Linked DNA regions of Homo sapiens: region 1 is linked to region 2. The links come from fine-mapping of genetic effects on gene expression. Tissue or cell type: Th17 cells. Region 2 holds a variant in brackets; the other region holds the start of a gene. All regions are shown on one strand. Distances are between the middles of the regions.

Region 1 (2,500 bases), 28 kb before region 2:
CACTCTCAGCCACCCCTTCTGCCTGGCAGGGTTTACTTCATCTCCTCCAGTCAGGAGAGGGGAGGTCACACTGCCAGGGCCTTTGCCCCATTCTTCTCCAGCTCCTTCTCTAGAGGAAGAGTCATGGCTAGGCCGAGGCAGTGTGGACCTGGAACAGGTATAAACTGTGCTACTCTTTGGTGCCCAGTGCCACTTTTCCTAGCCAGGACCAGAGCTATCACCTTCTCTGTCCCGCAGCTCTGCCCAGGTCTTAGTACCCCACTCACCCCTGGGCCTCAGGAACCCTAAGGAGGGGCATAGGGTTGCTTTCCATTCACACCTGGGGCAGCACAGGGAACTGTGCCACAGGCCCCAAGACAGGCAGATGGAGGATGAAATACACAGGTCCCAGTCCCTGAGGCCACCTTACGTGTCCGGCCCCCAACCCTGTGCAGAAGGTCAAGGCAGAGGCGCCGAGGAGGGATGGGAGGATGCCTCCTGTGAGATGGGGTACAACTGGTGTTCCTTCTGAAGCTGACATCTGGCCTCAGCTGGGACTCTGGCGCCAGCGGGCCCGCAGGGGGCTCACCCGCGACACCCTTTGTTCTGGCTGCCTCCCCAACCCCGCGGGGCCCTCTGCTCCAGCTGGCATGCCTCAAGGACGCTTCGCGCCTGCTCCTTTGGCCCCCGGCTCGCAAGTAGCGGGGCCAGCACGTGACCCGAGGGGGCAGGGGATGGATGGATCTTGACCTTGCCATCTGGCCCCTCACGGATGTGCTGCTGGCTCTCCCTCTAGGAAATCAACAAATTTTTGCGCTTCTAACATCCAGGCCCCTGAGGATGGTCGCGAGGAAGATCTGTTTCGGACTGCAGCTGGGGCCTTCGGATCCAGAGGAAACCAGGGCTATTCTTCGAGGGTGGGAGGGGGAGGGCCGCGGGGTCGGAGGGGAAGGTGGCCCCGCGCGAAGTCGCCGCCGCCGCGCCCCGCCCCGCCCCGCCGGCGGAGACCGAATCCGCCGCACCCCATAGGCAGAGGCCACCCTCCCCGCCTCCCCGCCCGCTGCGCGCCCGCCCCGCCCCGGCTCACTTTAAAAGTTTACTCGGGCCGGGACGCAGGGCAAAGCGAGCCATGGCTGTCTACGTCGGGATGCTGCGCCTGGGGAGGCTGTGCGCCGGGAGCTCGGGGGTGCTGGGGGCCCGGGCCGCCCTCTCTCGGAGTTGGCAGGAAGCCAGGTTGCAGGGTGTCCGCTTCCTCAGGTACTGGCCCCCCGCGGGAAGAGAGGGGGCGGGGCAGTTCCCCGGGAGAGGAACTTGGAGGTCCCGGCGAGCTTCGGAAGCCCCACCTCTGGACGAGTGCACTGGGGGGAAGGTACCCGCCCCTCCCCCGCCCCCCGCCAGCACCTAGGCAATAGGAAAAGCTGGCTTGGCCTGGTGGACTTGGGTGGGGAGGGGGCTTTGGTTGGTGGCTGCAGTGACTTCGAGTTCTGGTCCAAGACTCTCGATTCCTTCTCCTTTATGGGCACAGAGGGCAAGGAGTGTGGGCTTTAAGGAGAATATTCCGATGGGGAGGGGCAAGGGCCAAGGCCTGGGCTGTACCCCCAGGACACTGCCTCTGAGTTGGAACCCCTTCATGGGCAAACTTGGGGATCAGCCCCAGTCTCCCCGACCCAGGCCACTAAACTTAGCAGTCTCCTGTCTCCTCATCAGCTGCTCACTAACATGGCTTTAATTCTTTGCTGCCTACTCCTGGGCCTATTTCCTTCTGTCCTCAGTGCAAGGGGTGGGATGGAAGCTGGCAGGCAGAGGATTTCAGTTCCCAGTAGCTTCACTGCCTCTGCAGCAGCACAGTAAGTAAAGCTGCCTTCCCGGTGTGACCAGTCCTTGGGAGGACCCCGTGAGATGGCAAATGTGAAAGTGCTTGAGACACAGAGAGCAGGCTGCCACTCATGTTATCAGGGCTGTTAGCTTCAGCAGCACCACTGGGGAGCCCTGTGCACTACTGAGCCTGTCCTACCACTCAACTCGGCCAGATACTAAGTCTATGGTCAGGACAGCACTTTCAGCAACATCAGATGGGGTGTGGGCCTGGACATGGAAAAGGGAGAAGTCAGAACAAAGCTGTGTCTCAGAGAACTAGATTTGTTTTTGTTTTTAAAAAGGCTAAGTAGGAAGAGTTGGAGGGACATGCAGACTCCTTTTTGGCTAGAACTCCAAGATCACACTTTCTGAACTTGCTGATTTCTGAATGCTAGAAAGCATGCAATGCCTTAACATCACTCTGCCTAATTTGCTGAGAAAACTAAGTGGATCAAGGCTGGTCAGTAGATGGGATTGAGATGAGGACAGTGGGGTCCTCTTCCCAGTGACCCTGGGAAGTCACTCACTACTTCCCAGGGTCTCCCTAGACAAGTTCGGCCCTCCCCTGACCCCCTAGTCTCTTAAGCCTCTCCTCTGGACTCATGGCTGCCCCCTCAGGCTGGGAGGACTCTGAGGAAAGTTACTTCCCAAAGTGTACATATTT
Region 2 (2,500 bases):
GCACATTGCATTGATATGAGTTTGTAGAACTCTTTTAATTCCTTGGAAGAGCCACCTGTTTCCAACTCAACCCTGCCCTACCCTGGTCCCAGTTTCTTGGGATCAGTTAGTAGAAATTGTGGAATAATAAAATTGAGGTTATATTATCTCTGATGATCAGATAGGAGATAAATTCCAAACCAGAAGGAACAGGAATCACCTATGCCCTCTCCTTTCTCCCAGATCTGAGGGTGGGGCATGGGCAGGCATGGCTGTAACGTTGAGGCAGTTGCACCGGGTCCTCTGCTCCTGGCTCGGGTGTTCATCCGCCACGTGATCCACTTGATCTCTTTGTACTTCAGCTTCTTTACCTGTGGAATGGGAGTTCATGATACTCACCTGCATTTTTTTAAACATTTTTTTAAAATTTGGGACGGAGTTTCACTCTGTGGGCCAGGCTGGAGTGCAGTGACACAATCTCGGCTCACTGCAACCTCTACCTCTTGGATTCAAGCTTCTCCTGCCTTGGCTTCCTGAGTAGCTGGGATTACAGGCACACACCACCACACCCAGCTAATTTTTTGTATTTTTAGTAGAGACGGGGTTGCACCATGTTGGCCAGGCTGGTCTCAAACTCCTGACCTCAGATGATCCACCCACCTCAGCCTCCCAAAATGTTGGGGTTACAGGCGTGAGCCACCGCGCTCGGCCTCACCTGCATTTTTCTAGGATTATATTAGTGTGTCTCAAAGAAACCCAAACTGAGAGTGACTGAAAGAAGATGGGGGCAAGGGAATGGTTGTGTGTCTTGACTATTATCAATATCAATATCCTGGCTATAATATTGTACTATAGTTTTGCAAGATGTTAACATTGGGAAAATTTGAATATTGATGCTGAAGAATGCATGAGCTATTTCTGTATTGTTTCTTTTTTGTAGTTTTTTGTGGTTGTTGTTTTGGGTTTGTGTGTGTGTGTGTGTGCTGTTGTTGTTGTTGTTGTTGTTGTTTCTGAGACAGGCTCTTGCTCTGTTGCCCAGGCTGGAGTGCAGTGGGTGTAATCAACCTTGAACTACTAGGCTCAAGAGATCTTCCTGCCTCAGCGTCCCAAGTAGCTAGGAGTACAGGTGCATGCTACTATGCCTAGCTAATTTAAAAAAAAAAAAATTGCCAGCCTGGGCAACATGGCAAAACCCCATCTCTACAAAACATACAAAAAAATAGCCAACCATGGGGTCATACACTTGTAGTCCCAGCTACACAGGAGGCTGAGGTGGGAGAATCACATGAGCCCGGGAGGTCCAGGCTGCAGTCAGTGAGCCATGACTACACCACTGCACTCAAGCCTGAGCGACAGAGTAAGACCGTCCCAA[AT/A]TTTTTTTTTTTTTTTTTTTTTTTTAGAGACAGGGTCTTGCTCTGTCACCCAGGCTGGTCTCAAACTCCTGGGCTTGAGCAATTCCCCTGCCTTGGCCTTCCAAAGTGCTGGGATTACAGGCATGAGCCACCGTACCTGGCCTGAATATCATTTCTTACATCTGCATATCAATCTACAAATATCCCAAAATAAATAATTTAATTTTCAAAAGCAAAAAAAAGAAAAAAGAAAGGAGATGGGAGTTTCTTTATCTGGGAGACAGCCAGTCTGTGACTGGTGTGGTAGCTCCTGCTGTCCAGGCGTCAGGCTCCTCTCTTGTTGCTCTGTGGTGCCCCAAATCACTATGTGGTCCAAAATGCTACCATTCTTTTCCCGTCACAAGCAGCATTCCAGCCTGAGGAAGAAAAAAAAGAGAAGATGTCCCTTCCTCTGAAAGTTTCTTCTCTGAAGTTGCACACACTATCTCTCTTTAAACCCCACTGGCCAGGACCTCACCATCTGGCCAGATCGGCTGCCGGGGAAGCTTGGAAACCTGGTCTTTATTCCACACAACGTGGCCAGCTAGATGTCTGAGGGTGTGTCATGAGAGAAGAAGGACCTATTGGGGTTTCTGTCACACCACCTGTCAGAGCCGCTGTGAAGACACAGGAGAAAACACATATGCCAATTGAACTGGATTTTTTTTTTTCCCCCATAAATCAGCCTGCCGATTTCCCAATTAGAATTTCCAGGAGACCACTGTTTGGTCTGAAAACCATGGTGAATAATGGAAAACCAAGTTCCAAACTAAATGGGACTCCTGGTCATTGTGAGAATAGGAGGATGCTTGTTGTGAGGCTGAACACCTGCCGTCCGGCTGGAGTGTGCAGTGGCACCATCTTGGCTCACTGCAACCTCCGCCTCCCGGATTCAAGAGATTTTCCTGCCTCAGCCTCCCGGGTAGCTGGGACTACAGGCGTGCACCACCACGCCTGTTTTATTTTTGTATTTTTAGTAGAGATGGGGTTTCACCATGTTGGCCTGGCTGGTCTCAAACTCCTGACCTCAGGTGATCCACCCACCTCGGCCTCCCAAAGTGCTGGGATTACAGGTGTGATTCATCATTCCTGGCCAGTTCCCAGACTTTATAGGTGGGGAAGGTGAGCTT

Direction of the effects. Alleles are on the strand shown, and positions count from the first base shown. SD is a standard deviation of normalised expression in the study named.
As copies of A replace AT in region 2, the expression in Th17 cells of the gene that starts at base 1,065 in region 1 goes down (large effect, 1.1 SD a copy in Schmiedel 2018).

What was found. PIP is the estimated chance that this variant, and not a neighbour inherited with it, causes the effect.
Region 1: ACSF2 starts here. The variant in region 2 is fine-mapped to the expression of ACSF2 in Th17 cells (Schmiedel 2018, PIP 0.95).

The regions. Positions count from the first base shown.
Region 1 is chr17:50,425,154-50,427,653 of GRCh38, forward strand. ACSF2 (acyl-CoA synthetase family member 2) reads left to right here and starts at 1,065. Exons shown (of 16, transcript NM_025149.6): 1 at 1,065-1,236. The coding sequence starts at 1,109. RefSeq lists an enhancer at 597-1,141 and a silencer at 878-1,197.
Region 2 is chr17:50,452,818-50,455,317 of GRCh38, forward strand. The region is part of intron 1 of ACSF2 (acyl-CoA synthetase family member 2); the gene reads left to right. Among named protein-coding and RNA genes, the nearest start is that of CHAD, 15 kb to the right of the region's middle. The variant AT/A (reference allele first, on the strand shown) is at 1,352.